5 separate regions of the Homo sapiens genome follow, and all the other regions are linked to region 1. Evidence: fine-mapped expression QTL. A gene starts in region 1. Each other region holds a variant in brackets. All regions are shown on one strand. Distances are from middle to middle.

Region 1 (5,004 bases):
AATCCAAATTACAAAGTTTAATGACCCTGGAGAGCCATCTTTGCCTCCAGTGAACTCAGAACTGTATCTAAATATTCATTAAGGCTCTAGATAAATGTTTATTGAATTAAAAGGGGGAAAAGACACTGGAAACCTAGCCTCCAAAAACCCACTGCCTGCTCCCTTGCCCACTACAAGATTAAACTGGGTGCTCCTGTGATGAGAGTCAACCCATCCAAGACCCAGGGGGTCTGACCCTGGGCCATGAGGCGATGACAGCCAAGAGGTCTGGGCAGCGGCTCCAAAACGGAGCACCCACTGCCCTGGGAAATGTTGGGCGCTTGCTATGACACAAACCCTCCCCCAGGGAGCGGAACCGGATGGCCGGAAACCAAGTCAGTTCTGTATAGACCCTAAGGCCCCAATCCTATTCCACCACCCTCCTTCCTGTTTATAGATCCCGCTCCTGGAACTCCAACTACCAAAGAGAAAGCAGACGTTTTAGAAGTATGTAACACATGACGTAACTTGAAAAAGTTATGCTGCTTATTGGCGCGAGTTACAACTTGCCGGGCTCACACAGGAAAACAGGCTCACGTTAATTACTTTGCCTTTAATATGCCACGCCGTCCTTTCCTGGGGCCCCCGCAACGGTTGGGTAACTGAGAACCAGGTAGCCTCGGTGGTAGGACCCAAACTGTGTGGGCGGTGAGCAAAAGGCACGGAAGGAAGAGGGCCGATCGCTTCCGAAGCGGCAGCCGACTGGGATTCACTACAAGCCCGGCGGCTCTTTTCCCGCACAAGCGCAGGGAGAGGAAACTTGGGCACCTCACAGGCGGCACCGAGTTGCCCGATCGCTCGGCGATGTCGCCGAGGGGGCTCGCGGCACTGCGCCGATGCCCCTGGCTCGGCCGAGGGCGTGCCACCTTTGTCTGGGTTTCCCCACCAGGATGGGCTACGCCTCGATGCAAAGACGGCTTGAACTGGTTGGAGGCGCCGACGCCGCTGTCCGCGCTGGAGTTCCCAGCCCTGCGCGGGGCCCAGGAAGCCGACACAGCCGCCTGAAACCTCCCACTTACACTGCGCGCACGCGGCGCGCCTGCAAGTCCCAGCCCCGCGGTTACTTCCCTGGCGCGGCAGCCACAGGGTGGAGAGCCGGAGACCCCTCGCTCTCAGGCGCAGAGGCCCGGCGCACCCCTGCCCTCCTGGCACTGCATCGCCGGACCAGGCAGGGCCCCCGTGCCCTCTCCAGGGCCCGCTTCTTCCGCGCCCACGCGAGTCCCTTCTTCGGGAGACAACGGGCCGATGGACCCTCCCTCCCCCAGCAAGACAAGATCTCCGACTGTCCACCGCGTTAGGGAACGCACGACAGACACCCAGACAGCACCCACACCCCTGCCCGCCCCTCGGCCCTCACTCACCTGCCTGCACCGTGTCCGAGAGGTCGTGCCCGGGGGCTGCGGTACGGGGAAATTCCTTCAATTTCCTGGCGCTCAGGTTCAGCCCCCCGGAGTTGGCCGCCTCCTCAAGCGCGCGCTCCAGACCCCGGTTCAAGGGCAGGTTGAAGCCCCCGCTGCCACCGCCGCCACCACCCGCCCCGCCGGGGGCGCCGGTTCCTCCGTGGTGCTGATGGTGGTGGTGGTGGTGGTGGGGATGATGAAGTGGGTGCAGAGTAGCTACCGAAAGGGCCGGGACGAAAGGTTGGGGTTCGCTTCCCGGCGTCGCCATCTTCTCCCGGGCCCCCCCACCCCGCCCCGCCGCTCCTGCGGGGGGGTCACAGCGTTCCCCGCGAGGGGAAAACGGCAGCTCGGGCTGAGTGCCGCAGTGCTCCACCGAAAGGCGCTGGAAGGAGGGGAGGAGGGTGTGGGCAGGCGCGTAGAATGGGGGGCGGGCGGGGAGGCGGCCGTGGCAGCTCGGTCTTGAAGGTTTCCTGTCCCCGGGAAGCTAAGGACTGCGGCGGCGGCGGCGGCGGCGGCAGCGCGCATGTGTCTCCTCCCGCCCCTGCGCCCTCCCCCCGGCTGCTCTGCCCTCCTCCGCCGTCTGCTCTCTCCTCCTCCTTCCCCCACGCAGTCTGCCCCGCCTGAGCCTTCCTCCGCGCCTATTCTGCCGGCCGCCGCCGCCTTGCCGCGATCCGCCCCGCAATCGGGTACACGGCGGGGCTGGACGTCTGCTCCGGGGCAACTGAGGCGCCGAACCTCTCTCTGGGCGTCCTTTTGCCGCCCAGGAGGCTTTAGGGGACTGGAGGTTGCGGGGATAGGGGGGTGGTCTGAGAACACGGATAAAACGGCGGGAGGCAATGAATGGGATTTACAGTACAGTGAGGTTTGGGGCAGGAGAGGGTTCTCTCAATTCTGCGATTTATTCTGGCCGTTTAACCCAGAGATCCCCAAGAGGCAGTTTTCATTCACTATGGGGTCATCCCTGCAGATGCCCCCTGGCATTTGGGCGCTTACAATGAACCAGACGCTTGTTTAGGGAGTCTACGTAAGTTACCTCATTAATCCAGGGACCCCAGGAGTGCCAAAGTTGTTCCCCTGAGTCTACAGAGGAAGTTAATAAATGTATCTAAGGTCACCCCTGCAGTTAGAGGGGCGCTAGATTCGAGCTAGGGCCCTCAGAATCTAGGGTTGCCCTCCTTCACAGTGTACCCCTGGGCCAGACGCCAGCGCCAAGGGACGAATACGAGTGGGACAGAGTGTTTGCTGAGCGGCAGAAGAAAGCTACAGACATAGGAAAGAAAAACTCAAAATGAGGGCAGTGTTTATGGGGGACAGAAGACATTGTCGTAGGAGAAAGATGAGCTGGCTGCTCCCCGAAATTGGGTGGTGCCAGGAGAGGCTAGAAAGCCAGTGACCCCAAACAGCAAATCAGTCACAGCTCGAGTCTGAGCTGAAAGAACCATCGAAGTCTCCTTGTGCCCTTCTTCTTCCCGCTTTGGGGCATGGAAACGAACATGTCCGCTTGCAAGTGAATTCACATTCTGCCATCAGCCACCCAGTGGCACCCAGGCCAATGCTGGCACACCAGGGGCGACAGAGAACATCTGACACCCTAAGGGCAGACCAGCTGGACGATTAATAGAATACCATTCCTTTCCTGAAGTTAAAGCTTCATGTCCAACTTTCCAGGGCCTTTATTTTTGCTCTATTCTTAAGGCTTGATTGTCCCCTATGAGCGACTTGGCTTGGGGAAAATGAGTCGGGGGGTGGGTGCGGGGTTGTCGGGGTGTCAAGCACGAAAGTAATGCAACCCTTGGAGTAGGGGAGCTGGTTTTTTAAGTGGTAATACATAAGTTTGATGGCCTAGACAACAGGCTGGAACTGGTGACTTCATGGACTCGGCACTTAAGTATGGCATGATCTGTGTCACTTGAATTGACTGCACAGATAGTTGCCCTTAATTCCTGCGGGATTCTTGGCCCTGAGCAAAGCATTCTAATCTGCCCGGAGGAGACACGCGCCACCTGCTGGTATCCTCCCGCAAACCTCCCCTCTCACATGCCATTCGCCGCAGCCTTCCAGGCTTTTAAAAGTCCGGCTTCAAAATTCATAATAATAACGACAATAATAATAAATGAAAGTATACTTCCATCACAAAAAAGTAACCAAATTTCCACTTTCCTCCAGGGAGAGGAACAGAGAAAAACAAAATCCAGTGAAAAACAGAAACACAGAAAAAAATCCAATTAAAAGAATCTTCAGCTGAAACCAGGTGGTAGTCTGTGTGATCAGCAGTCAGGACATGATTTGGGACATCTTCTGGCTGACTGCAAATTTAGTTCAGACTAAGAGTCGTTGTGATGCATCATAGGAAGCATACATATTTTTTTAAAAGACCACTAATTCTTCTTTAAAGAAAATAATGGATTGCATATGAGCCCACGATTTGCTTTTTAACAAATGATCAGTCCCTCTGTTAGATTGACCTACTCATTGTGGTTTGTTTACCCATCTACAGATTACTAAACTGTAAATTCCATGAAATAGGGACCTATTCATCTTTGCAACTCTCTCCCCATGCCTCAGAATCGAGGGGAGTACTTTGTATATAATGAGTGCACAATTAATATTAGTAATCAATTAAGTATTGCATAATAGACCATGTGTTTAACAGGTTTGCCACCTGTTGATATGTCCTTTTTTATTTGTATAAATTTATGGGGTACTTGTTGATACATCTTTAAAGTTTCAAATGATTTCCCTGAATGAAGGAGTTTTTCTTAAAATGGGAGAGAGTACTTGACCCTTGAAAATGATCTTGATTATTTCTAAATATTAAAGAAACTCGACAAGCCATTTCCCCTTGCTGTCTTGCTTCTTCACTATTTCTTCAAGAAGATGGACATCTCTCTTTTGTTTAATACCCTGTTTACTTATTCTGAAAACAGCACCCTTTTGCTATTAAGGGCAGGAATCAGGCCCTTTTAAAAAAATCCGCTGCCTGGAAGATTCAACAAATAATGTTGTCTGGCTGAGATATTTGATGCAACTAGTAACATCAACATGAATTTCTCTGAAGATAAATAATATGTGTTTCAGGATTTTTCTATGTGAATCAGCTAGTTGATGAAAAAATGACCCTGATAAAATGAGGAAAAAAAAATAGGACAATGTCCTGAGTTTTTCATGAACCTGAATGTATTTAATTTCAAAAATTATATATAATTGTGAGGCTGTGCCTTCACTATTTTTTTTTCTGATGAAAAAAAAAAACCAAAACAATGGTAACAATAAATTGTAGTGTTTTTTAAGTATCCTTTTTCAAAAAATAACAAAAGGAGGTTACTAAAGTCAGTTACCAATTATTTTGATGTTGTTTATCTCTGAAATCAAAAACTCTGGGAACTACTGTACTTGCTGAGACCCTTGGTTTTCTTAAAAGGAAGTTAGTCATACATAAGTCTAGTCACCTGCTTTCAAGCATTTTCTTAAGCTGTGCTCACATCAACTAATCTTCTTTTCTTTTTTTTTTTTTTTTTTTTTTTTGAGATGGAGTCTCACTGTAACCTCCACCTCCCATGTTCAA
Region 2 (5,004 bases), 160 kb before region 1:
TGAAAAATATTTATACCTAAATTTAACTGAATGAGAGGAGATTTCTTCTCTGTGGAAACATGAAGTTTTAAAATGTAGCTCTCAACTTCTCCTTGGAAGTTAAGAACCTGAACTGGACATGATGTTTAAGATATACAAACTCAAAGGCAGCAGTATCTTGGCTTTGAAAAAATATCACGAGCTTTAGATCCAGGCTACTGTGAATCAGAACTCTCACTAGCTGATTCATTCATTCCCTTCTGGTGCCTAAAATTGAACTGGACACATTCGGTGTCCTCAAAATGCTCACATTTCTTCTCTATGGTCTTAGACAATTTACTTAACCCAGTGACTGTCAACCTTACTTGAACACCACATAACATCCCATAAAAAGAAGTAAAACAAATGACCAGTGCTTAGACTCAATGCTACACCAAATAAATTAGCATTTCTGACTATGGGGCCTAAGTGACTATAGTTTTACAAAACGCCCAGGTGATTCTAATATAAAACCAGAGTTAAGAGCCACTAAAAAGCCTCTTATATCCTCAGTTTCTTCATTTCTCTAATGGGAAAAATAATACCTATAGTGCAAGATTACTGTAAAAAATTAAGGAAAATATCTGTAAACTGGTACAAGATACATGGTTATTTCAGAGACTAATGTAAACTGGTCCATTCATCCATTCTCTGGTGATAACTTAAAGATTAATTTTCAATAAGTATAAATTAGCACCTACAAATTCACTGCAAATGAAAGAGCAAAAATGACCCCAAAGAAGATAGAAATGGTTTTTAACTTCAAAGTGAAGGGAAGAGGAAAGATTCAGTAAGAGGACACAAGAGCAGGGGGAAAAGCAGAAGTTAAACTATCAGGTTAAAAACGGAGGTTAAAGCTGTCCCATCCAGCTCCAGGGGTGGGCCCAGAGAAACCTACAGACAAACGTCCACATCCTCCTTCATCCACCTTATGGGGCAGAACTTTGGGGACTTTGAGAACTCAAACTCCCAAGGACCTTCTACCCAGGTTGCCAATTTTAAAAAATCTGTTTGAAGAATAAGTTTTAGAGAAATGGGGAATTTAAAATGAGATAGAATGGGAATAAGATATTTGAAAGAATTTTAAAAAAAGGATAATTTTATATAAAGCAAGACAGTGAGCAAGGTAAAAAAAGGACAACCTTACCAAAAATAATAACTAAATGTATAAATAAAAGTCAAGTTACATTATGTTAGGTTGAGCTGGTAATAAGATAATGTTTATTTATAAAGGTTATTTACAAAGATAGCATTACATTAGAAAATGTATTCCAATCACAGGTCAAAGTTAAGAACAAAGAGAATGAAGATAAACATAAAAGTCAGATCTGGGAACCTAAACAAATATTTGTAAAGACTATTTCGGTACAGAAATTTTTCTGTTGCCCAGGGCATAGTAGAGACAAATTGCAAATAGGAAAAAATGACAACCTCCAAACATCTGACATGATCGACTGAACCGTGAGTATTGAAAACGATGGCTTTATTATTATTGTGGTACAGCATAACAGCTGCATGTGAATTCTTGGAATTTTTACTCATAGAAAAAATAACTATTGCAAGGTTATTTTATTTTTAGAAAGATTTCCACAATGATTATTTTCTGTGGAAATTTAAGGATTTTTAATCAAATGAAAGCAGCCTGAATGTAGATGCGGCAGAGATGATTCCAGAGTTAGGAACCCTGGTGCAGCTTCACCTCCACCTCAACCCCACAGTGTGACCCAGGCAGCTCACCTCACCTTTCTGGTTTTAGTCTGTTCGTCTATAAAGATAGTAATTCTACTGCTACATAAGAAGACTAATTGTTTCCCAGTTTTAAAAAAAAAAAGGCCTTTGGTTTCAGATATCATTCCTAAGGAAATACCAAACCACACATAAATCTTTCATTCTAGGCTTTATTTCCTTTAAACAACATTAGGCCCATAAATAGCTATACTTTCTGAAAAACAAAAATGCCTCCCCTCCATTAGAAAAAAAAAAACTTAAGTAAAGAAAATGTTTATCAAGAAAGTTTCCATTTAGCCCTCTTCAACTTCCAAAATTTACAACTGGATGGTATAAGGAGGGCCATTTGTTTAATAACTGTTGTTTTTTAATCCTATTTATTTTCCGTTTAAAAATTTAGAAATCTATGAAATATTAAAAATTCTTTTTATAACTACTCTGCCAAAGTATACATTGTCTTTCTCCATAAGGAAATTGTAGAAGCATTTTTGGTTGAATTTTAACCAGAAATCACAGCAAGTGTCTTAAACATATATTTTCCAGGTATTACATGTAACATACTTAGATGAAAAGATAAATATTATCAGAAAACGTATCTTTCCATTGTGTTTGCATTGTGGCTATACCCTGTACCTCACTACTCTTCCCTATAAATCACATTCTCTGTTTCACTTAACTCGACTGCAATCACTTTGTATTCTGAAGTAAAATGTTTAAAATTTGAATATTTCAGAGACTAGGATGAAATTAGACTAGAATGGAGATTACGATATAGGTGGTGTGCAGATCTAAATAATTATGTTTTATTGTAATCTCTTAGGCTATATAAGATTCAAAATTAAAAGATACCCACATGAACTCTAGCTGAGTGTCCTC[G/A]ATTTTTTATTTACACATTTGATTCTCAGGCCAAGTTACTATCCTTGAATGTCAAAAAGATGAACCTATACTCAAGAAGGCATCAAAAGTCAAAATATGCCAATAATTTGGAAAAAAGAAGGCAAATGATTTATCTTCATTTTCAGAAATTTCTCCACGTTAACATTATTTTCAATGCAATACTCTAGGATCAGCCATGGTACATTTTAATTACCTTAGAAATCTCACACAGTAAGCATAAATAGTAAAATATCAAACTCTAAAACCATTTAGTTCAGATGCAGGAACAAGCGGAGATAAATCCAAATGTGCAAACCCCAAATATTTGTAAACAAGCAAACAAACCAAAAAACCCAAGCAGAAAAGGGGAGAAAAGAAAGTATTATAATGCCTTCCCCAAATCCAGAATAGTCAAGTTAATTAAACTGGAGTTTGACAAACTGCTAGAGAACAATCCACGTGCACTTTTCTGGACTTCACTTTCCAGGCTTACACATTATTTCTCATACCAAGCATGCAGGTGAATATACTCTATCTTCAGCTGCACAGAGATGAATGTTCAGTATACGCATTGGCTTATTAATGAGAACATTGGAGAATAGGTACAAAGCCACCTACCATTGTCACTGTCTCCTTCAGATGGAACACTGTAGCTAGAGCTGTCCCATGTCTGTGCCTGTGTAAGTGTGTTGAAGGAGATAGGAGGAAGAATGAGGGCTGGGTCTGCAGGGGAGCCAGAGAGCCAGTCCGCGTACAGTTGCACAAGGACCAGGAAAAACCAAAGGGGCAGCAGCATTTCACAAATGGCATAGGGTTTGCATGGAAATGAAGAGTGGATTTCATTTATATGGGGTTTAATTTCAAATGCACAATATAGGAGAAGAATGAAAGATGGTGCATGGAATAAAAAGAATGATAAAAACTGAGTGTTAGTACCCATCAATCATACACTTTGCATGCAGTTCATATTTGTTAATCTTAACAGTTCTGCAAGCCCACAGACTTAGAGTACTAATGAATCAGGTCAGAGGAAAGAAAGAGTACCCATAGGTTAGGTAGATAAAAAGCAAAAGACCTGCCAGATACGTTCCTCAAAGACTTTCTAAAAAACTAACAAAATATGATTCACACACAAAAAAATTGGTGACATAGAATAAAACTTAATATGCGTAAATATATCTATTATTTAGAAATAAAACTATTATAGAATCATCATTTACCATTAGTGATTTTTTTTCTCCAAAGCAATGTCAAATTTCTTTTTAAAGACACCTGTAGGTCTATTGGCATGCTTTATAGATAGCTGAATCTAGCTAATTCTTTTCTCAATCCTGGACATACCTCTAAATACTGTTTTCAATATTGCTCAGTTAAAAAACAAAAAACAAAAAATGTTGGAGACTAGTACAGTCTATTTAACAACAAATCCAATTAATCAACAGAGATCAATCAATTTCAAGAACTTCTGAGTTGGTCACTTATGAAATGATAACAACTCTTATTTTTGCACTAAATATCCATATGGCAATTTCATATTTAGGAAATATCTATATTATTTTTTATTCAATCATAAGGCAGGGCCGGTAAAATAAATGGATATAGTTCTAGATATAAATATTTGGGTGTGTGCAGTTGTCTTTGTTCGGGAGGAAAACACAGAAAGAAATGAAAGAAACTGCCAGCCTACTTTAAGAATCTAAGTTCTTATTTGAACTTGCTAATTTAAGCAGTCTGTTTTTATTTATAACACAGAAATCACATAAATCCACATACTTTCAAAATAAAAATTAATTGGCTTTAAGCATTCTAAAGCTACTCGATCAAAAGTGGTTTCTTTTAAAACTATATGCTTTCCAGTTAAGATTACTGTATATATTACTTTCCAGAAAATGTGAAAAATACACTTAAGCATATATACTATTTTAAAATTATTAAATAAAATGAAATAAATTTCCATACATAATGCAAGTTTTTAAAGTTCCCACATGTCACTTGATGATCCTGAAGGTAAACAGCATTATTTACAGCAACCAAACTCCATAGAGCTTTCAACAACAAGAACAATTTCCACATTGGTTAGTCAGCATTATAGAAAGGCTGGAAGCTTGGAAAGGAAATTAACTTTGTTTTCTGCTATTCAAAATAAAAGCTCCATTTATTTTTCACTGCTACAAAGAATGTGAAATGGTTTAACAGCCCCAGTACAATGTAAACCCTAACTGTAATAAGTTGAGTTTGGACTCTATAAAAAGAATAAAAAAGTCACCAAAATAATTCTACAATTGCAAGTTATACATTCAAAAGAATATTATTCTCTGAAGATCCATTCAACTTTTGATTTGCTCAATTATGCCATGCTTTTAAACTGTGTAAAACTGACTG
Region 3 (5,004 bases), 150 kb before region 1:
ACTTTAAAAAACATTATATTGGCCACATCACATTCTGTCTTATCAAAGAGTATAATATACTTAAAGTATCCCCAAATTGTTAGATAATTTCTTTTTCCAAATATTTGCTATTAAAAATACCTACCCCTCATTCTCTACCCCAAATTCCCCAAATTGTTCACGTCTTCTTGTCTCTTAGGATAAGTTCTTAGATTTCACTCCGAAGTTTTATATGTTTCTAGACTTGGTTACATACTAAGTTACTTCTAGAATGGTTTTGCCAATTTACTTCTCCACCGGCAGTTTATGTATTATTTCAAATCCTCATAACCCTAAAAGGTAGGTACTTGTCACCCCCTCTTATAGATGAAGAAATGGGATGCAGAGAAGTCATACAACTTACCCAAGTTAACTGATGGTGCAGCTATGTTTAAAAAGTTTCTAGCTAATTCAAAGTCTGTTCTTTCTACAAGCCACACTACTTCCTGATTCGTTATAATGAATACATGTACACGGGTGCACATGCCTACATGTACTAACATACATGTATGAACAACCATACACATGCATGGATACACGTAAACACACATACAGGCTCTCCTGTCCTGTTTCCTGCCCTTTCACTAACTGCCCCGGCTTGGGATGTAGAATTCAACTCTTTGAACATACCTTGATTAGGTGCCTATGCCACGAGCCAAACATAAGGGAGAATTAACAACATGAATAATCATGTTTAAACACCATCATTGCCTCCCTCTAAATATAAATTAAAATCTCAGCTCCTTAACAACATCCAAAGCCATCGCCTGCATCATTCTACACTGTCTCTGGTGATTCGCAGTCCTGGCTGCACATCAGAAGCACTGGCTGACTCCAGTCCCCAAAGGAAGTGCCTGGTATCTGTTCTGAAAAAGTTCTACAAGTGATACTGAAGCACACTAGGATGGAGAGCCTCTGTTCTGCCTGAGATTTTCCCAACCTGGCTCCATTCATTCTGACCTTCATGCCTTTACCTAAGCCTTTCATTCAATCCAGAATTTCTCTTTTTCTTGAAATTGGCAGTCATTAAAGGTCCAGGCCATTATCCTATCCTTCAGGAAGACCAGTCCACCCATCTCCCCTTTTCCTGGGGTTGGGCACTTGCTCGAGTCTATCCTTTTTACCTCCACTTGAAGCACTTGAATCAATTACAGTTATTTATTTATTTATTTGTTTTATTATTATTTTTTTGAGACACAGTTTCACTCTGTCACCCAGGCTGGAGTGTGGTGGCACGATCTCGGCTCGCTGCAACCTCTGTCTCCTGGGCTCAAGCGATTCTCCTGCCTCAGCCTCCTGAGTAGCTGGGATTACAGGCGCATGGCACTATGCCCAGCTAATTTTTGTATTATTAGTACAGACAGGGTTTCACCATGTTGGCCAGGCTGGTCTCGAACTCCTGGCCTCAAGTGATCTGCCTGCCTTGGCCTTCCAAAGTGCTGGGATCACAGGTGTGAGCCACCGCGCCTGGCCCAGTTACACTTATAACTTCTCAAGGCAATCTCTATCTATTCTAAATTCTCAGAAAGCAAGAGCTGTGTCTTGTCCATCTTTACATCCCCCAAGGTGCACACTGCAGATCTTCCCATACTCCAAGCACTCAATTAATGTCTGCAGAATTGAAATGTTTTTCAAATCAATTGCAAAAGACTTCCAGCTGTACTAAACTGATCCGCCACTATTCTTTCAGGGCCAGACATCATAGGTGGTATATTCTCATCAGCATTCTGGGATACACTAACTACGCTTTTCATAAATTTGCAGAACCCAGCTAGGATTGCTGCGTGTGATTCCCGTGTTCATCATATTATAAGACCACATCAGTTTACCAAGTCCTCTAGTTCTCTAGAGATCATGTAGTTATTACCCGATACATGATACCTGCTATTGTTTAGCTGAAAAATATTTTGTCCATGGGAATTCCATTACCATTAGTTAAGAAATCGAAAAATATTATCCACATATCCACTGAATGTAGTGCCTATTATCGATCAAGGCAAATTCAGATTTTAAAATTATCCTGTATCCCAAATCTTTAGAAATATATTCTTCAGTTAACATATATTTGGCACTACCCCATATAAATACA[G/A]TACTACTTGATATACCAATTCTTTCCTTTTTGGAAAACATTTTCTTTATATTTTTTATAAATCAGGGGTTTAAACTTTAAGCAATATAAAACATGCACTTTTACCATATTTTTGTTTTCTAAGAATTTTACCAAAAACTCCCATATGAACTTCATGAGGGGTGAATGAACTCAATAAAGGGTGGTGAAAGGGGAAATTGATCTCACTCCCTCCAGAAGTTTGACTCTTTTACTTTTGCATCTTGGGAAAACAGGCAATAAACATGACTTTTCTTTGTTAGTAGCTGGACTGGGCCAAAATCGTCTGTGTAGGTATTTTAGGAATTTAGACAATGTACTCCATACATTAGTATGCATTATTTACACATGAAACCTGGACCAAGGAGACATACACACCCATTGGGATCTTGCAGCAAATCTACTGCTTCTCTCAGCTGCTCGATCATTGCTATATCCATGTCCTGATCTTTGGATGAACTTATTCTGTAACGTGAAACCAAGCATAAGAATGAAAACGATCAATACAACATGAATATCATCTAATTTCTTAAAAAGCAAACTTACAAAAATCCATCTAACATATGAAAATGATTTCGACAGATTCAGTGTTATGGTGAAAATGTGTTTGTACCTTGTGGGGTGGGATGGCAGAGCACGGTGGGAAGAGCCCGAGTAGGGGAAGCCCAGCTCTGCTGTAAAGCAGCTCACATAAGATTTTCATGCCTGTGCACCCCTAACTGCCCCTGTGCACAGTCAGGCAATGGCCTAGATGAGAGGCTTTCACCGTTGTGCTTTACTGAGTTCTAGGGGGCTGCATGGAGGGGATCACCTGGCTGAGTCTGTACTACTTCTGGGCCTTCCAACTCCCGTTCAACCAGTTTTATTACTTTCATGCATATAGGGTTTCAGTGTGGGACAGTGGTTCTCAGTCCAAACTCTAGATGCAGCAAAATCATCTGTGGAGCTTAAAAAACATGCCAGGCCCTATATGTCCAAGTGGGTCTGACTAGGAGTTCAGCATTTTATAAAGCTCTACAGATAATCCTTTACAGCCAGGGTTGAAAGCACTAGGTATGAGATTGAGAATGGAGTTTCCAAACCGTTATATAGTTTAAAAACAAGTGCCTCTTTCCCTATGATTCTCTGATTGTTTAATCAAGCTAGGCCTCCGTGGCTCTCAGCAGCATATCCAGTGAGTAGCTGGTAATACAGACCGTGACCAGAGAGGAACTTTCCAACGTTTTTAAAGGGCAAGAGAGATTTGATCACAGCAAGCCCTTCCCACCATAGAATGTAAGCCAATGACTTTCTGTAAGGAGAAAAGTTTTAACAATGGGATAAATCCTCACTAAGAAGAAAAACCCTGCAAGGTATGATGGAGAGTCAACACCTGCCTCCCAGATTATAGAAATAAAAATCCTGGGAACAAAAACTATACTCTATGTCACACAGTCCAAACTCAATTCCCCTGGACATGATTCATTGTCTGATGGGATCACACACCCCCTCCCCTGTAAATCTTGCTAAATAAATATTTATACACAATAGAGTAGAAGGATTATCTGTCTGGTACAAGATTCCTTGGGTTCAAATGCTGGCCCTCTGTGACCTTGCGGCAAGATAATCAATCTCTCTGTGCCTCAGTTTCGTCATCTGTGAAATGCGGGACAAGAACAGAACTTATCTGTTAGGAGTGTTGTAAAGATGAAATGAGTTATGGCCTGTCAAGTATTTAGGACAATGCCTGGCACATGATGTTGAATAAATGGTAGCTCTGGCAGTTAGAAGTCTTGGGACCAGAAGTCTACGGTGTTCTCAGATCTTGAAGGGGATGACTTGGGGTAAAGAAGGAGATCAGCGCTACAGATCACTTCAGGCCCAGCTGTTGGCTTCTTCAGGCAATTGTATGGATGGTAGAACCTCCAATCTAGAAATTCTAGCTAATTCTCTGAAATCACATTACTACCCGCAACCTCAAAACAAATAAGACTCAAGGCCAAGTAAGAGGTTTGTACTGCCCAATACCACGACAAAAAGCATCAGACAGAGAAAAACTGGCAACTTCTTATCAATATTGTCTGTAAGAATATCAGCTTGCCCACAGAAAAGCAGGTCAAAATTCTATCACAACAGAACTGCCAGACTGCTTGCAAAGTGGATTTGAGTGATGATGGCTTGTAACCAAGGCCTCGGCACTCACATGCCCTCAGTTTGCCAGTGCACATCCTCTTCTATCCGTAACAGCTCTTCACAGTCTTCTGCCCTTGCCTGTGGACAAAACACACAGGGTTCCTGAAAACCATTGGCTACTCAGTAGTCAGGAGCCAAAACCTGCCCAGCCCATGTTTATAACAGCGTTATTCACAATAGCCAAAAGCTGGAAACAAGCCAAACAGCCATCTATGGAGGGACAGATAAACAAATCTGGTATGTACATGCACTAGAATATTACTCAGCCTTAGAAAGGGGGAAATTCTCATGCATGCCATACACACAGATAAACCTGGAGGACATTATGCTACGTGCAATAAGCCAGTCACAAAAATACAAATACTGTACTGATTACACTTATATGAGGTGTCTACAGTAATCAAATTCATCCAGACAGAAAGCAGAATGCTTGCTGCCAGGGGCTGCCGGGAAGGAACGAGGGAGTTGTTATTTAAAGGGTACACAGGGTCAGTTTTGCAAGTGAGAAGAGTTCTGGAGATAGGCTGCACAACGTAAATGTAGTTAAAACACTCTGAACTACATGTACATTTAAAAAATGGCTAAGGTGTACATTTTGTAAGTATTTTCCCATAATTAAACATTTTTAAATTTAAAAAAATGTGGCCCAAGACCACAGCATCTGTTAACTTATCATCAGAAATTTAAAGCTTTACTGGATTTCCTAT
Region 4 (5,004 bases), 140 kb before region 1:
TCATTCAACAAATATTCATAGAGCTCCACACTTTCCTGTTTATCTTGATAAAAAGATGTTTTTAATCTCTCAGTGACAAATGCTAAATCAATCAATGGCAGCAGCCAAAGAAAAAGAATGAGGTGTGATCCCTGAACCCCACAATGTCATCTAAATGGGAAGTAAGATCACCTGATCATAGATGGTAAAATCTTTGCCAAACCAAGTGAAAATAGGAAGCTATGTAAGATAATTTGGAACACTTATCACTCTAAAAAATAAATTTCTTGGAGGTGTACTTAGGAAAGGAGGCTGTAATATAAGACAAGGAAAGGCCAAAGGCAAGATGTGTGCATTTCATTCTGTTGAATATAATCTTTTCTGTATTCCCTTCTCTTTCTACCCACCTCTCATCTTAAAAATTTAGCAAAATTCCAAAGATATGCATCTAATTAAAAGGCACAGAATAAATCCTTGGGCTCCTTTTAGAATGATATTAGCATCCTACTTATGCTTAAGTGACAACAAAAGGATAATGAAGTTCTTTATGTAATGTTTTATTAATGAGTTTAATTAGCCTTAGAAGAGAGATAAAGCAGAGTCTGTTTAATTTAACAGAAAATATACTTAGGGTGAGTAATTTCTGAAACAATGGTCCATTTGCGAGGACTTAGGAGTTGAAGAGGATGAATTAAAATGCAACTAAAGCAATGTGTTTAGTATCCCCTCTCTCCCACTGAAGCACGGTAAACTATTCATGTGCCTTCCTATGGGTTATTTTCTTTTATTGACACTGGCCTTCTCTGCCTACTAACTCTTCTTCTTTTCAAAATGCTCTATATTAGAAGGATTTTTAAAGATAAAGAATCCCACTTTTTAATATACTGCTATATAGAGTATTTTGTGAAAAATAAATTCAAATACCTTAGCTACCTATTAAAATTCAACGACTTGAGGAGAATTGGAGAAAGGTTTTTTTCCTGGAGTCATACATAGAAAAAAATGTGAGTTTCTTTGATGGGGTGACTGGCCTATTAACTGCAATTTCACAGTATTATAATGTTAACTTAGTAACTACAGAAAGTAACTTCCCTCAAAAAAAGAAGAGCACCTGATACTTTTCCTACCACTCCTTTCTAGATCCCTGAGGCCAAGAAGCTCCATTTAATGATACATTAGTGTTAGATTTTGGGGACTCTAATAGACTACATGTGAGATAATAAATCAGTTATCAAAGCATGATTTATAACCACTATAGGAAGTTCTAATGTGTGAGGCCTGTTAGCTTGCAAGTAACCAAACTTGTATCCAATTAACTGAACAGAACAGAACAGAACACAATCTAAGAGTCTGAGGAAAACAAACATTGTTATAAAAACTATAGCTACTCATAAATGCATTTCCTGTGGATCAACTATTAAAATAAAATGTACAGTTGATTCCTTAACATTTACGCATATGTATAACAATGTTTTTCTAAATTACTCTATTACTGAAAAATAAGCGTATGTATAAAAGTGCTTCACGGGCACTTGCGTACTACTTAGCCATTTTGTAATATTTATTGAGCACTCAATAATATTTTAGATAATGTGTAGGAGAGGAGAAGATACAGACTCCACTCTTGAGGCATTTACAAAATATTAAAGATATTAAAGATGCAGAATAAGTAACAACAGCTAATATTTATATAACACTTCGAGGATTTCAAATCACATGAATATACAAATCACTTTTACGAATATCACATGAATATACAAATGAATCGATGCCCTTTAACAGAAAGGAGTTCAATGAACACTGGTAGATATGTCTAGAAGTACAGAAGGAAAAGAATCTGATCACTAACTTTACCTCGGTGGCAGATAATCGCTTATCTCCATTATCACTTCCAACTCCCGAATCAGAATCCTTCTTGCTGAGATAGATGCCATCAATATTGAATTCATTTAAAAAAGATTAAAATCACAAAGTTCACACCAAGAAACATCAATTTATATTCTAATAATAATTTTGCTACGCAAATTTTTATTATTACCATAAGGCAACAAATCAGTCTAGTATTAAAGAATATTAAGACATGGACCTAATGAAAATCAGACAGTAGCACAGTCTAAACACAGGATAAGATAAAATTCTTTGTGTTCGGGGTTTCATGGATTTATGCTCTAATCAAGTGGCTTGCTCTTAGATGTCAAGGTGTTTCTTAAAAATAGTTACCAATGTTCTTATTTTACTGCATCTAGCATATAAAAAATTAATAAACCACATAACTGCTTTTACCCCTTATGTTATGAAATGTGGTTACTTTCAATAATTCTGTAAATTTTTATCCAGGGATTAAGTACATAAAACAGTGTACATATTTTAAGCATTATATAAAAGTAACATTAGAGTAGTCCAAAATTTTAAATTTACTTATGTAGCAAAAAGTGAAGGAAAAGATTTCTGCAGTGAAGACTTCTTAAAAAGAACCTGCATTTCTATAACTGTGTTCAGTGTGAGAATGTTGTTTTTTGGAAGCTCAAGGCTTGATTTATGCCACAAGAAGCTCTAGGATGTGTGAAAGGGTTCTAACTTTTCCATTTGAAACAGGAAGTGGCGACAAAAC[T/C]ACACATACTGCATTTTTAAAAGACCAAAAATAAAGCCTTCATTTTTTTCTTAACATTGTTCTGGAGGCATATTCAACATTAATAATTGCTAAAAAGGCATGTCTGGGCTCAATATAGTTATTTTGATAAGTAAAAAATATTCACATTTGTATTCTAGATCTTATTTATAAGTATGCACATATTTACTCAGGAAGAACTGATTATTGATTAGGAGACAGATGATATTTGAGATATACCAAAATATTCTCAATAGCAGCAGTTTTTTCTTTCATATCCCAATAGTTTCTCAACTTCTTGTTTTAAATACAAATTAGGTGATTAAACCAAATTGTTCTGTTTTGCTTTGTTTTCTGCAGATACCATGGTGACTTAAAACAAACAGATTTTGAAGTCAGCTACCTGGAGGGCCTTGGCCTAGGCAAATTTTAAACTGGGGCTTTGAATGAGGGCATGACTCACCCATCTTCCACGTGCTGGTGTAAATGTGGCCTCTCCATGGTGTGGAGATAAAGGGAGTCAGCTGTCTTAATCTGGCATGCTTGTATGCTCAGATACTTAAATATGTGAACTTTGCCCTTTGTGCAAATCTACAAAGAAATTAATAGCAATCATATTCATTTTTCAATGACAAAACAAAATGTAAGTATCAAATCCTTACTCTGTATATTTCAATTTTCCCAGTTTCATTTTAAGTAACACCCTACCAATGTACACTAAATCCGTCCTTTCCAAAACATGTAAGAATTTTGGGAATCATTCCCTCCAAATTCTACTTTGAATAGAAAATCATGCTTAAGCAATTTCCCATTTTTTCTTGCATTAAACTATAAAACTCTAACAAAAATGTATTCAAGTATATATAGTATAAAAAATATAAACTCAGATGACCAGCCTGGTGAAATTCCAGTTACAAAAGATGAGAAAAGCACAATTATTTTCGAGCTGATAGAAAGCAATTCAGAGCCTAAAAATAATTGTAGATTTAAGAAGCTGTTAAATTATTTAAAAAGAAAATAAACTTCAAAATATTTACATGGTTAAGCATCTGAAAGCATAGCACTTCATTTTTCTCTCATGCAGTTTAACATTTGAGCTGGAGACTTGTCTCTAAATAATCAATAACCATGTTTTAAGGTGTTTAAATTCCATTTTCCAGCTAACATTCAAATAAGGAATATATGGTTGGGAGCAGTGGCTCACGCCTGTAATACCAGTATTTTGGGAGGCCAAGGCGGGCAGATCCCTGGGGGTCAGGAATTAGAGAGCAGCCTGGCCAACATGGTGAAATCTCGTCTCTACTAAAAATACAAAAACTATCCAGGTGTGGTGGCAGGCGCCTGTAGTCCCAGCTACTCAGGAGGCTGAGGCAGGAGAATCACTTGATCCTGGGAGGCAGAGGCTGCAGTAAGCCAAGATCACACCTCTGCACTCCAGCCTGGGCGACAGAGCGAGACTCTGTCTCAAAAAAAAAAAAAAAAAAAAAAAATCAATATACTCCATGAAACAAATTCAAATAAAATGATAAATAATAAGACATTTAATTCTGGAGTTGGAGTGATTAGCATAGTGAGCCAAGTGCTGGTGAATGGATTTGATGCAATGGAAGACAATTTATTGTTTCTCACATTCACTCAAGGGTTCACTGTGACTGTTTATAATCAAGTTTTATTCAGTATTATTCTCTTCAGCAGAGAATCAGAAAACTGGCCTTTGGAGAGTTGCTTAAGCATGATTGATAGCATTGGGAATCAGAAAACAATACCCCAAAATGAAGGTCTCAGAAGCAAAAGTTTTTCTCTGACCTCTCCTGCCCTCCTGCCCCTCGGTCCCATTCTCCCAAGGAAGGGAGCCTTACAAATTTGAATCTTCCCCAAAGCTGGTCATAGAAACCAAAACCCCTTTAAAACCTCAAAATATTACTGGAACTTTCCCTCGGCCTTTCTGTGTAAAAACTGGCCATAAAGAAATGATCTGACTTCTCTTGTTTGACAGTAGGCCATAAGACCCCCCATCGCAAAGAGGGTCCTGCCCCACGCCCAGAAGGAAGGAATGATCCTCAGAGAGCCCAAGAAGAATCCAGACAAACAGGCCCTGCTGGGTTTCCTCACTCAGTCTATTAACATGAGATCATACTCTTTTTGTCCAATCATATTTCTACATGGCTGTCCATACTTTGTAAGCATAAAAATGGACAATTTCCCCTGTATCTTTGGGTCTTCACTCTGGAGGCTTCCACGTACATGTTAATAAATTTTGATGCCTTTTCTCCAATTAATCTGCCGCTTGCCAGTGATTAGTGATTTTCAGCAAACTTTCAGAGGGTGAAGGGGAAATTTTCCCTTGGCTCCTATAACAGCACATCCCATGGGGCATTGGCTTTGCTGCAAGACCCCTCACCTGTGCTGGAGGAGAC
Region 5 (5,004 bases), 120 kb before region 1:
TCATCACAAAAATAAAACCCCATGGGTCACTATCTGAATTAGCTGGGGGTTAAGGAGAAAGAAACAGGAGATAATAGTCTAGGTGTTTGGGGATAAAATACTCCTGTTTTGAAAATGTAAAAGCAATATTTCTAGAATGGCCTTGTTCTCTAGAACACTTTTGTTCAAATTCAGCCTAAGATAAGGTATGAATTTTACAGACTGATTTAAAGAAGATACGATTTAGGAAAATGAATGTAAATAAAAACAACACTAATGCCTCAACTTCGGCAATTAGTAAGAATTTATCAGCTTATAAATTCCATATTCAGTTATTTATTAAAATAGTCAAATGAATCCCTTCTGAATTTTCTATTAGCCCTAAGCTATGTCTTAGAGAATGATTCCAAACTTCAGTGAAATCATAGCACCCTATAGTTAGTACTATAATACCACAAATACACAGGCAGATCAGAAAGAATCATGAGCATGTTATAAATATTTACTGAATTTATTCTTTTTGATAGAAACGAATCTAATTATAGTAATATAAATACTCAAGTTTAAGTTTTTTATAGACCAGTCAGTCCAACTTTGTCATTTAGATAAAAAACAAAATAGAGAATTTGAACTGTGACTTAACACATACTTACTTTCCACTGGTCATCATGTTTTTAGGTAACCAAAAGAAAAACTTTAGAAATAAGATTCTCTCCTCATCACAATAAAAAGAGTCTCTAGAAGTATTAAAACCATGTTGGAGTTTAATATATTTTTGTTACTAAGTGCTCGTTGCTAACTGACCTTCAGAATGCAAAAATAACAAGGATTTAAATTCGGAGAATAAATTCAGGGATTATTAAACTAGGTTATACTCACTTTCAGAAAGCAATATGGTAAAAGAGACTAGAAGTTTTTTTTGTTTTGTTTTGTTTTGAGACATTGTCTCGCTCTGTCGCCCAGATTGGAGTGCGATGGCGCGATCTTGGCTCACTGCAAACCTCTGCCGCCCAGGTTCAAGCGATTCTCCCGCCTCAGTCTCCCAGGTAGCTGAGATTACAGGTGTGTGCCACCACACATGGCTAACTTTTTTTTTTTTTTTTTTTTTTTGTATTTTTAGTAGAGACGAGGTTTCACCATGTTGGCCAGGCTGGTCTCGAACTCCTGACCTCAGGTGATCCACCCGCTTTGGCCTCCCAAAGTGTTGGAATTACAGGCGTGAGCCACCGTGCCCGGCTGACTAGAAGTATTTTTTTAAGGAATGATGTCTAGTGAAAACCAACATAGGCCGGGCACGATGTTTCATGCCTATATTCCCAGCACTTTGGAAGGCCAAGGTGGGCAGATCGCTTGAGCTCTGGAGTTTTAGACCAGCCTAGAGAACATTAGGAAACCCTGACTCTACAAAAAGACTTAAAAAATTAGTCGGGCATGGTGGCATGCACCCGTGGTTTCAGCTACTCGGGAGGCTAAGGTGGGAGGATTGCTTGAGCCCGAGAGGTCAAGGCTGCAGTGAGCTGTGACCATGGCACTGCATTCCAGCCTGAGTGACACAGTAAGACCCTGTCTCAAAACAAAAAGAAAAAAGAAAAACAATATAAATACTGTGTCAAGATGATCTTGGTTACAGAATAATTCCAGTAAGACCAGGACACACACTGGAACTGCAGGTAGTATTTGTACACGTGACCTTGCTCTGACACTTAGGTTTATGGTAATACTGCTTGAGATGTATTTTTGTAAGAATCTAGCTCTTTATTTAATTGAATAAAATGCAAACGTTCTGACAGGAACTGCAAGCTACTAATAGTAGCCTCCTATCACGTAGCCATGCCCTTTTGTGGAAGTGCATTTTGTATGACTCACTGTGTAACTTTAGGTAAATGTCTTACCCTTTCTGTGTCTCTATCAAAAGAACAGGTAAGGATTAAATAATTCTAATTATCCTCCAATATGAGGAAAGTCCATTTGCTACATCAGAGATAATGAAATGATTTTGGTTGAAACACAGGTATGTAACTAACCGGGAAATGTCAATTTTGATTTCTTAACAGTCAAAAACCCTCAATGCTTGTGGTCAGAACTTGCTGTCTTTCCCCCCACCCCACCGAGACGGAGTCTCTGTCACCCAGGCTGGAGTGCGGTGGCGCAATCTCGGCTTGCTGCAACCTCCACCTCCCAGGTTCAAGCGATTCTCCTCCCTCAGCCTGCTGTGTAGCTGAGATTACAGGTGCATGCCACCATGCCTGGCTAATTTTTGTATTTTTAGTAGAGACAGGGTTTCACCATGTTGGTCAGGCTGGTCTCGAACTCCTGACCTCGGCCTCCCAAAGTGCTGGGATTACAGGCATGAGCCACCGCACCCGGCCAGAACTCGCTGTCTTAAAAAGAAAATATGTTCATTTAAACTTGAAACTTTCTCAAGAAAGCTCTGGGATGACAAATTATCACCTTTCAACACCAGTGTCTTTTTCCAGAGCAAAACTCTGTTGCACAGTTCTCCTAAGTTTACAAACACACGGCCTACCCCACTGCTCTTCAGAAGAAAGGCAGAAATGGAAGCACAGAGGGCCTTGCGCAAGCCCTGGGTTTCCAATCATCCCACAGAAACCAGAGGTTAGGAGGCGCCTCCAGAGACAA[T/C]GAATGGACAAACAGCATGGCGAGCACGTGAATTTATGCCTCCGCTGTTATCTCCCTCAGAGATTGGAACGCTACCCAAGCAAATAATGAAGAAGGGATTTTCCTCAGCAGCTGCTCAATAATCAATCTTTGAATCCAAACTCTCCACACAACCAAACATTTCATGAAAAAAGAATAAAAAATAGCATATCCAATCAAGGCCAGGAAATGCACCTTCCAACAAGTCGTTACTTGAGCCAGGCCTTGTGAGATTTTTGATTAGAAAAGCAGGTTTTAAATCAGAGATACTGTGTTCTCTTATGTGAAGGTAAGAGCTAGAAGACATGATTTTCACACACTGCATGACTTCAGAGAGGACAGAATTGAAAAAAAAACATCTCTGGACCACAACATGTCACCATGTACAGGGAACCAATGAGAAAACTCTTCTTTGGCAAATGCCCCATAAAAGGCTCTCAATTTTATTGTGTTCTAACAGTGTGTTTGTTTTTACAGCTGCCTGTTAATTATAACACATGGCATTTATACAGCATCTCTTAACAAATATACCTCATCCATCAGGCATGGTTTAGCAGTAAAAGAACCATGTTTCCAATATGTTAACAAGGTTTTAATGAGTAAAATGAGATTTAGCCAACACAAGTCTACAGATCCCTTCCCTGACTCTTGGTTCCACAGTAACAAAACATTAGTGAGACATTGACCATTTGTACCAAACCTTTTTTTTTGTAACATTTTCCTCCCACAACTTTAATGGAAAAACCACTAGGAGTTAAACCAGGGAACTCCAAGGAGAAAAATCACAGCCCCACTCCATGAGGGGCTTACAGTTTCGGTGAAGAGACAGTGCTGTATTGTGGTGAGGACGCTGATTAAAAAACCTGGTTTTGACTCCAGCTCTACCTCTTCATATCCTTGTGGCTTTGGCTAAGTAATTCTAAAATTGAAACTTATTTGTAAAATATAAACATGATACCTACCTTGCTAGCTTATTTTCAAGACTATATGAAATAATACATGTATACCTAGCAGAGTGCCTGGTATATAGCAGGTGCTCAGTAAATGTGAATGCTTTATCTCTTCCCCTTATAGAAAGCACAGGCAGATAGACGTACAAAGCAACATATCCATACTGCTACAGCAGTGAGGCAACAGAGCACATAGAAGTCATTCAGAGCAGCCAGGAAGGTCAGAAAGTTTCAGATCATTCCCATCTGAAATGACCCTGGAGGGGCCAGCTCCATGGAGCTAAGATTCCATAAGTTTTCCTGCACCTGCAACAATGTGGAAATACAACCTGGCTGCTCTTGTTGAGTCAAGAAAAGGACATCTCAGTAGTGTCTCTTTGTGGCTTCCTCATGGGAGGGGGAACAACTGCTTTTCGACATTCCCTGCACAGTCTCAAATGGCAGGACAAGGCAGTGACTGAATGGGAATGCATTAAAAAAAGATCTTATATAATTCTAATGTATTTAGAAAGATAAGATACCATTTTCCAACTCCAATTCCTTTCACAAATTAGAAAGGACAACTGCTTTGTTGTAGATGGCTAAAGTTTTTTTATTTTATTTATTTATTTTTTTAAGGGATTGCTGACTCTGGAATGTTCACTCACACTTAGAAAAAAAGAGAGTTCACAATTCTGACCAAGCATGGTGGCTCATGCCTGTAATCCCAGCACTTTGGGAGGCCAAGGTGGGTGGATCACTTGAGGTCAGGAGTTCGACAGCAGCCTGGCCAACACAGTGAAACCCCATCTCTACTAAAAATACAAAATGTTAGCTGGGTGCAGTGGTACGTGCCTGTAGTCCCAGCTAGTTGGGAGGCTGAGGCAGGAGAATTGCTTGAACCTGGGAGGCGGAGCCTGCAGTGAGCAGAGATTGTGCCGCTGCACTCTAGCCTCGGCGACAGCCGCTGCACTCCAGCCTGGGTGACAGAGCAAGACTCTGTCTCAAAAAAAAAAAAAAAAAAAAAAAAAATTCCATTTGGAATACTCTGAGTCTAATGTGAACAATTTAAAAATATTTCTTCTAAAATAGTTAACAAACAATGCTTAGAGCCTAATAAGCTGAGACACTGTCTCGGCGCTAAAGGGCTTCAAGTATTCTGAATGCTTGGGGTGCTCCCAAATCTTATAATAAGTTGGTTACTTCGTGACTACAAAACAGAAGCCTCCCACGGCAATTCTAGAATTACTTCTGGCCCTCCAGGGAATTTTTTTTTCCAATTGATAGCTAAAAATAATGATATGGTTACCTATAGTAACACTACTATTTTAAGCAAAAAGATGAAAGATAAGTGAGAATGGATGGAAAATAATCTTTTTTTTAGACCGTGACCTTAAGCAAGGCCAGTCCCTCTTTGTGGTTAAATAATGACCACTTA

Direction of the effects. Alleles are on the strand shown, and positions count from the first base shown. SD is a standard deviation of normalised expression in the study named. Not every link is listed here.
As copies of T replace C in region 5, the expression in liver of the gene that starts at base 1,934 in region 1 goes down (small effect, 0.38 SD a copy in GTEx).

What was found. PIP is the estimated chance that this variant, and not a neighbour inherited with it, causes the effect.
Region 2: its variant is fine-mapped to the expression of LRCH1 in whole blood (INTERVAL, PIP above 0.99).
Region 3: its variant is fine-mapped to the expression of LRCH1 in whole blood (INTERVAL, PIP 0.95).
Region 4: its variant is fine-mapped to the expression of LRCH1 in whole blood (INTERVAL, PIP above 0.99). The same link has a PIP of 0.9 or more in blood mononuclear cells.
Region 5: its variant is fine-mapped to the expression of LRCH1 in liver (GTEx, PIP above 0.99).

The regions. Positions count from the first base shown.
Region 1 is chr13:46,550,100-46,555,103 of GRCh38, reverse strand. It overlaps LRCH1 (leucine rich repeats and calponin homology domain containing 1), which reads right to left and starts at 1,934. Exons shown (of 20, transcript NM_001164211.2): 1 at 1,401-1,934. The coding sequence starts at 1,707. RefSeq lists enhancers at 801-1,120, 777-1,477 and silencers at 1,681-1,740, 1,801-1,990.
Region 2 is chr13:46,713,901-46,718,904 of GRCh38, reverse strand. It overlaps LRCH1 (leucine rich repeats and calponin homology domain containing 1), which reads right to left. Exons shown (of 20, transcript NM_001164211.2): 16 at 3,241-3,345. Among named protein-coding and RNA genes, the nearest start is that of ESD, 81 kb to the left of the region's middle. The variant G/A (reference allele first, on the strand shown) is at 2,623.
Region 3 is chr13:46,698,707-46,703,710 of GRCh38, reverse strand. LRCH1 (leucine rich repeats and calponin homology domain containing 1) reads right to left here. Exons shown (of 20, transcript NM_001164211.2): 10 at 4,308-4,375; 11 at 2,504-2,590. Among named protein-coding and RNA genes, the nearest start is that of ESD, 96 kb to the left of the region's middle. The variant G/A (reference allele first, on the strand shown) is at 2,108.
Region 4 is chr13:46,686,026-46,691,029 of GRCh38, reverse strand. LRCH1 (leucine rich repeats and calponin homology domain containing 1) reads right to left here. Exons shown (of 20, transcript NM_001164211.2): 5 at 4,989-5,004; 6 at 3,051-3,178; 7 at 1,834-1,897. Among named protein-coding and RNA genes, the nearest start is that of ESD, 110 kb to the left of the region's middle. The variant T/C (reference allele first, on the strand shown) is at 2,591.
Region 5 is chr13:46,673,341-46,678,344 of GRCh38, reverse strand. All of the region lies in intron 3 of LRCH1 (leucine rich repeats and calponin homology domain containing 1), which reads right to left. Among named protein-coding and RNA genes, the nearest start is that of ESD, 120 kb to the left of the region's middle. The variant T/C (reference allele first, on the strand shown) is at 2,620.